2 linked regions of the Homo sapiens genome follow. The protein of the gene in region 2 interacts with the protein of the main gene of each other region in a pairwise test. Each region holds a gene or a part of one and is shown on either strand. Other genes may lie near its edges. The genes, in order: SLC16A7 and CPEB1.

What was found.
Region 1: the proteins of CPEB1 (region 2) and SLC16A7 interact in a two-hybrid assay, tested with the Homo sapiens proteins (one large-scale study listed by BioGRID and IntAct).

Annotation. Positions count from the first base shown.
Region 1 is NC_000012.12:59,707,415-59,711,224, reverse strand, and holds part of SLC16A7 (monocarboxylate transporter 2), read right to left. Parts: intron 1-3,810. UniProt on the Homo sapiens protein: Proton-coupled monocarboxylate symporter. Catalyzes the rapid transport across the plasma membrane of monocarboxylates such as L-lactate, pyruvate and ketone bodies, acetoacetate, beta-hydroxybutyrate and acetate.
Region 2 is NC_000015.10:82,644,429-82,648,971, forward strand, and holds the start of CPEB1 (cytoplasmic polyadenylation element-binding protein 1), read right to left. Parts: upstream 2,936-4,543; 5' UTR 2,709-2,935; intron 1-2,708.

The sequences.
Region 1 (3,810 bases), on a different chromosome or scaffold from region 2:
GTGCCCTTCCATTACGGAACTGCTCGTTTCCTATCTCAGATACATAGTTCCACTCAGGCTGCCAATGTTAGTCCCTCATTCACCCACTGCCTGCAGGGCAAATGCAAAGTAGGCCATGTCCTAGCAATCTTCCTTAGAATTTGTCAAAGTATAACTTAGGGAATAGTGGCAGTCTTCCTAGTGTCAAATTTGAGCTGAAATATGAGGCTGAAGTGTTGGTAGACATCTTCCTTGTGCCAGGGGAAGAATATCAACATAAATAAACAAAGCTGCCCTCTGGAAGAAACAGAAGAGAGAAGAGAGAGTGTAACATGCTGGACAAACAGAATTACTGGTGCTAGTTGAGCTGGAAGACATTGGTGTCTCTGCTTCTCCTCTGATTTGTATACATGAACATTTCTCTTTAGGCTTTAGGGTATCTGTATCAGGTTTCTGTCATTTACAACAAAAACACATCTGCATAAAGTGAGTAATGATATAATAACATATTTTTGAAAATTTTTAAGCCAAAAATCAGGAAAGATAGTCTTATTCTTGTCAGGTCATAAATTAATAAATAGGTTCTTTTTATACATCAGTAAGTGAAAGGTTCACTGTCTGAGGCACATATATCAGTCAGAAAAGATTTCAATAAAGGTTCTTAGAATTTCTGTTGAAAATAACATTTAGTAACTATCTGATATTATTTGTACTAGATTATCAGCCCTCTGTAGGGAAAGTGTGTCCTGGAATAATTTCAAAGGCTCTAAGCACACTTCCAATCTGTTGTTGACCTCTGTCCCCTTTCATCCCTGTTTTGGAAGAGACACACAGATTTCATCATAGAAAGCTCCAGGGCCATGATTCCATTCCTACTTTGTGTTTTGAAGTCCTTGCCTCTCACTTTTATTCCATGAAGACTGGCAATGATAATATCCACTCACAACTTCTTTTTCATTTGAGAAAAATGAACATGCTCTGAACACGCTCTGTCTTACTCAGTGACCCCACAGTAGTGATTAATAGGTTGACTGCTAAGCCCTAATGAATGTGTCAGATCTTAGGTGTTCTCTAGGCTACCAAAGGATACCTCTTCTCTAACAGAGATCTGATAGAGTAGCACTTGTACATTTCATGATATAATATAAGCTAAATTGACTAAGGCTATCTCATAGTGTGTTCTCATCCCATGTAATAATTTATATAACTTATATTGTTGTTACACAATAAACCAAGCCCTCATGTTTGTAATGATCAGTATAGTCTATATAACTGTAGAGAAAGGGAAGATGCATGCCAGATCAAACCACCTTGTCCAGGAGGTGTCCAGAGGGACAGATGTCCTTCCGCTTATATTTAATTGGTCAGAACTAGTCACTTGGCCTCAGCCTAAGGGGAGGAAAGCTGGGAAATATAGAGGAGTGCATGGATGCACGGTGAGCATAATAGTTTCTGCCACACTGTACCATATTTCATAGAAAGCTTTAGTAATATTTATGCCTACAGATGAAAAAAAGAGTCTAACATGGCATAGATATAAAAAGTCCACAGCCTACTTGCACAGGGCTGTCAAAGTGTACCTGGTACTTTTTGCTTTTTATAAATCTAAGATGAAAGCTCTACCTATCTCAAACACAGGAATGGAATGACTTTCTTTTTTTATTGCTGCTAAGATATTGCACAGCATGAATTATTTTAATAGCCTCCCTCATTCTGCAAAATATTAGGGCACAATGTAGAATAATATATTGAGCTTATTTAAAATTTTAAGAGAATAGAAAAATACATATTGTACATTATGACCACCAACCTGCTATGTTAAAGCCTTTTGCTTCTCGGCCTCCAGTAAAATAAGCTCAGTGTTCTAATGTTCAATCCCCATGTAAAGTAGTTCATCACAAAACTATCACCCTTACTTTAGCACAATTGGCCGTCACTATTCACATAAAACAGAAAAATAAGTTACCATGGAGACAAAGCCAATTCTTCTCTCCAGAATGGCTGATTCTTCCAAGTCAGAATAGATTTTTACCAGAAAAGTCATATAAAGTACTCACAGAAACTGGCAGTCCAAATCTGTCGCCAGTAACTGTAGAGGTAACCATATATAGATTATCATTCAATAGAATACAAAAACAAATATTGCACTAAAAGATAATCCTATGTAATCACTATTTACAAAATAAAACCCTATGTCCTTCTAAACAGTGTAGAAAGTTTAAATTATGTTTTCTACCTCTACTTAGTGCTTTATTAATGGGGTGACCACACTGTTTGACCTATTTGCTAAAATTTGCTAGATCTCCAGGAGAACATATGGACATCCAGATGGATTGCTGTAATGTGATGCCATTATTCTAAGGATGAAGTAAGGTATAAACATAATTTGCATTCTTTTCCATCCTTCCTGCGAACCTTTCATTAGTTTCATTTTTAATTCAGACATCAGAAGGGAAGATAATACCTTGCTACCAAAGCCCAGATACCAACTAATTACTACAAGAGACTCCAGTCCTGACATCACAGGCCAGGCCTCTGAACATGCTCCATCTTACTCAGTGACCCCACAGTAGTGATTAATAGGTTGACTGCTAAGCCCTAATGAATGTGTCAGATCTTAGGTGTTCTCTAGGCTAATGCAATTAGCATTGTGTTGAACAGAATATTTCAGCTACTTGCTAGAGAGACTCATTATACTTCACAGTAAACTATGTCTTTTCACCTTTGCTCTCCAAATTTTTTTTATAATCATCAACCTAAAAGGCTCCTATAAATATATTTCACATAGTGTAAGAAAATTTAAGTATTTTAAAATCAAATAGTGATTTTCTTCTACAACAGTGAACCCCTGTGTTGTATATAAAGTGAAGTTGTTTTCAGAGATGCTTGTTAAAATGCAAGTTTCTGAACTCTAACAACAGAAATCCTGATAAAAGGGGATTTGGGATAAGGCCTAGGACTTCATTTTTAACAAGACTCATGACTCAGAAGCTAAGCATTCTGTAGACCACAGTTGAAGAAAGACTGCAATGTGAGTAACAGGACTAATACCTGTGTCTTAGATTAACTGACTATATCAGACTTTTTGTTCTAAATAGTTACTATGTTTCTGAAAAAAAATTATCTGCATCCACATTAAGAAAATTATTTCCACATTAGATTATAATTTTAAATGTGCCAATTATTTTTGGTTAAAAGATTAGAAACTAATTATCAGGATAAGACATAGATGTTATTTCCAACAAACTATGTAAACGTGTAAGATCTATATTCAACAGTGGACATGGCAGGTAAAAGCATTTTCATCCACTAGACAATGGGCCTAGAATTGTGTTTCCAGTTTTAAAAGAAGGACCAAAGGTGAGCAGAATTTCTGCAATTCCTGACTTTTCTCTATGGCCAGAGATGAAACATTTGCATGTTTTAGCCCCGATAATGGAGGACTTTAGGCAATATTCCAGGTACTTACTTGGATCTCACCTAGATATTGCCTTCATCAATTACTAAATACCAAGAATTTGTATGTATCTAGCACTGCTTTCACAAAACAAGCATATATAAAATCCCTGTTAATATTTAACTTAGACATATTTTATTCATCTATCACCCTAAAAATTTTAAGGCAGCTTTTTCCAAATTTATAACTATTTTAACAAACTACCATTTTCTTCATGAATTTCAGAAGAGTTCTTTTGTGCTTTTAAAAAATTATACCATATATATTAAAATAGAAAAATAAGTATGAATAAAATAAAAACATTTATTTGTAGTAAATATAGTATATTTACTTTTTATAATTTCATATTGAGATTTAGTGGTTTGAGAAAGTTA
Region 2 (4,543 bases):
CCTTTTCTGCAAAACAGCGGGGAAATCCAAAACGGATGTTTTAAGACAGATTCCAAACTAGCCTTCAGGTTGAATCCAACATTAAAGACATGTTACATTTGGTCTATAGTGTTTAAAATTTTTTTAATGCTACATTTAAAAGTCAGGAGATCCATCAAAATAGAGATAGCCAGTTTAGAAGCAAGTCAAAGATCCACCGACTCTGGGCCCACATTTTTGCTGAGCAACAATCAGCTAGTGGCTGCTCCTTTCAAAGAGGCACATACTCTGTAGTTCAGAAGCCATTACCTTTCTTTCCTCCTCCTTTGCTCATTTATGTTACCTCTGGCCCCTATAGGGTTTGAGTTTGCAACCCATTTTAAAGACTAAGAATAAAACTAATGGTTGTGCTCAGTGAAAATGCTTATTAAGGCAGCTATTATCATTTGGTCACTAGTTAAGTTTGGTGCTGAGCCTGGAGTCTTACTACTTTATCTTCCTCCTCCACTTTTTACTTCATGGGCACTGGTTTGTGCACTACAGCGAAAGAAAAGCACATAGAACCATTCCTGTATCAAACGCCTATGGCCTAACCCAAACTGCAAACGGTTCCATGATTATTCACCACAGGCATCAGCTCTCCAACCTCTGATGTGCTGCACAGGCTGGCACAACCTCCCTCCCACACATGGGAGCCTAGACCAGGGAGTTGTTTACAAGACAAACGGTTCGGAGGGGGGAAACCAAGTTTTGTTTTGTTTTTTGAGACGAAGTCTCGCTCTGTCGTTCAGGCTGGAGTGCAGTGGCTGATCTCGGCTCACTGCAACTTCCACTTCCTGGGTTTAAGCGATTCTCCTGCCTCAGCCTCCCAAGTAGCTTCGATTATAGGCGCCCACCACCATGCCCGGCTAATTTTTGTATTTTTAGGAGAGACGGGAATTCACCTTGTTGGCCAGGCTGGTCTTGAACTTCTGACCTCAGGTGATCTGCCCGCCTGGGCCTCCCAAAGTGCTGGGATTAAAGGCGTGAGTCATGGGGCCGGGCCGTACTTTTTTATTACAAAGGTTGACTTACACACAGAGTAGTCAACTTCCAAATCCTACTTCTATAAACTGAGCAGGCACTACCAGGCCACCCAAAGTTTAAATCGCCGTGACAAAAAATTTAAAAAGCGAAACTCAGCCAGGCAAGGGGGCTCACGCCTGTAATTCCAGCCCTTTGGGAGGCCGAGGTGGGCGGATCACGAGGTCAGGAGTTCGAGACCATCCTGGCTAACATGCTGAAACCCCATCTCTACTAAAAATACAAAAATCAGCCGCGCGTGGTGGCACGAGCTTGTAATCCTAGCTACACAGGAGGCTGAGGCAGGAGAATCGCTTGAACCCGGGAGGCGGAGGCTGCAGTGAGCCAAGATCGCGAGACTGCATTCCAGCCTGGGTGACAGGGCAAGACTCCCTCTCAAAATAAATAAATAAATAAATAAATATTAAAAAATAAAAAGCCAAACTCCTACAGCAACGTGCTCTGGGAATACAGTTCAGCTCCAAGCCAGCTCAATGGGGACAAATAAAAGACCAGTGATGAGTCCCCAAAACACCGTCCCCAGGGTTTTCCGACAGCCAGCAGCCCCATTGAGCTCCACAAGCTTTTCTAACTATGCAAAAAACCAACCAGGAAAACAATCACCAACTTGAGGTTTCCAAGGTTGGGTCCTGTTTGAATTTATTTTTATTTTTTAACCCAGCATGTGTCCCTAGACTCAAAGGGAACATGAGCCTCAGGGTGCAAACTGTCCTTAGCAGACACTCTTCCCGCTAGCAAGGGACCGCACCGTCACCTGAGGGGCAGCCAAGAGGCGGGCGGTGCACCTGTGCCTTCCAGAATAGGAACCCCACCCACTTGCCCCTCTTCCCCACCAACGACACAGCCCAGTAGTTGACTCAGGTGCCAGGAGAGAGCGCGGGGAGGCTGGGCGGTAGCCAGGGAGACCAAGGGAAGCGGTTGCCAGAGAAATGCGGCGTCAGTCAGGGCCGGGGCTGCAGGCGCGGGGCGGGGGAGGAGAGACGCGGCCTCCTCCCAGGCGGGCCTGGCGGGAGGCACCCCGGCTTCTAAGAGCGAATTCGGCTCCCGACTCTCTTCCCCCAGCTGAGAGCACGGTGCAAGGGGCCAGGGCTGCAGGGAGCAAAGTGCCCCCGAAAAATAAGCGCGCGCCCACGAAAGCGCCCAAGAGCCCAGGCGTCTGCCTGGCTTTTCTCGGTCACGGGGTCAACGCGGGGCCGCTCACAGAGCCTTCTGGTCTCCCTGGGTCCTCTAGGAATGAGGCAGCAAAGCCTCGGTCGACTCGACCGCTGAGGAACCCATGACATGAAAAAGCCTCGGGGAATGACGCCGGGTGGGACACCCCAAGGTGAGGACCCCTTTGTGGGTGAGTCCCCCCACACTCAGGTGACTCCAGGCGGGCACAGGCCCGCCCAACCGCTCGTCATCACGGGGGGCGACTCGTCCAGGGCCCCAGCCGCTGCTCCGCCAAACCTGAGGCCGCCCCTGAGTCTGGGCACCTGGCCTCGTCCGGCACTGAGGAGAATGACCAGAACGCCAGGCCACATGCACCCACTCGCCAGGCTGAGGGTCCGAACAGCACAGCCCAGAGTGGGCTCGGGTCGCTCCCCGCCTACGCCACCTCCGCGGCCTGCAAGCCTAACCCTCTCCCGCCCATGACCAGGACCCACCTCAATGCCGCCAGCCCGGCGGGTCTCCCGGGCACGAAGCCCCGCCAGTCTTCCGCCCTCGCGCCACACTACCTGGCCAGCCCCGCCCCCGAGACTCCCTCTCCGGCGCCAAGCGAAGGTGTGAAGCCACGTGACCTGCCCAGGATTGGGAAGCCGCACGAGGGGCTTGAGCCCTCCACCTTAAAGGTGCCGCGACCGCCGCCGTCGTGGGGCTCTCCACAGAGCACGGGGTCTACGCCGTCAGCAGCCCCGCCCCGTCCCGCCCGGGCGCCCCCACCGCGCGCCGGGTGCTAAAGAGACCCGCAGGGGGCGTGAGCTTCCAGCGCCAGCGGCTTCGGGTCTCCCGTGCGACGGCAGTGTGAGAAAGAAACGTTCCGGGCGCCGGTGCTCCTTTATGTCCGGTCAGCTCCCGTCTGGACAGACGCTCGAGGCCGCCTGGAGGCCGCAGTGCGGCTCGGAGGCCCCACCGGCCGCCCCCGCAGGGCTGCGGCGCCTTTAAGCCCAAAGGCCCTGAGTCACGAGGAGGCTCCCTGCCCCCCTCGCCCTCCACCCCTCCACGAGGCCCCACGCCCGCGGGCACGTGACCGCGCCCCGCCCGGGACTCGCCCGCACGGGGCGGGGGATGGGGGTACCGCGGCGCCGGACCCGGCTGCGCGCGGACCGTTAGCTACTGCGGCCGGGACGCGGCCCCGCCCAGGCGAGCGGCGGGTGGCTCTTACCAGCGGGAACGCCATGGGGCCGGTGTGGCCCTGCGGGGCTGACGGGCTGACCGGCCAGCCGGCGGGCGAGAGACGCGCACGCACGTGGGCACTATTTTTGCAGCGGGCCGCGCGCAGCCCCGCACCCCGGCAGCTTATGAAGCTCCTACGAGCCGCTCCTCGGAGCCGCCCCCCGGCCGGATGCGGAGCACCTGTGTCGGCCCCGCCCGGGCCCTCGCCTCCGCCCCCTCGCGCCCCGCCCCTCCTAGCAGGCCGAGCCGAGGAGGGCTCCGCCGCCCACCCGGAACCCGGCGGGGACTGCCGCCGCTGCTAGCCACAGCTGCCCCCTGGGGGGCCAGAGACCTAAGCCTGAGCGCGCCATCACCTAAGTGACCCTTGCCGAGTCACTGTCTGCCCTGGGCCTCAGTTTCCCTCTTAACGAAAGAGGGCACGATTTACAAGCCCCTGCGAGCGGCGGCGATCGCTTCGTCAGTAGAGCCTCGTGTCCGCGCTCCTTCTCTTCCAGTGATCTCTCCAGGGCGAGAGCCTGCCCTGGCATCCTTGGTCGGAACTGTAGCCCCTGGGCTCCAGGAGGCGCACTCACTTTAGACCCTCTGCTCCGTGCGCTGCAGAGGGGGCCGCGAGAGTCAGGAAGTTCCAGAAAGTTCCAAAGACATCACTGGTCCTCTTTGGACCGGAGTTCTCCGGAGAAACCGCTTCCGGCGCTCCTGACACACTGAGATAGAAAGTTTCACAGAAATAGGGCAAGGGATAGGGCGAGGGCTCCAGGGCAGGCGTCCTAGGGCACCTGGCGCAGGGGCGGACCGGAAACCCCAGGCAAACGCAGAGTCGGAGATGGCATTCCAGGCGGAAGATCAAGCAAAGGCAGAGAGGGAGGACGGCACCGAGCGGCTCCCTCTGACCAGGACTGAGGATGATGCGACCTGATACCGCCGGAGGGAAGCCTGGGCCCGGTTTGTAAGGGGCCTTTATTCTGCAGACAGCAGGAAAACTATTAGAGAATTGTAAAAGGGGTTGGCAGTTGTCGGGTCTGTTTTAAGGTGTTGCTGGAGACATAGAAGAGGTTGGACAGAAAAGGGGGAAAACAAGGGACTGGAGTGGGGAGGAAAGGGACCA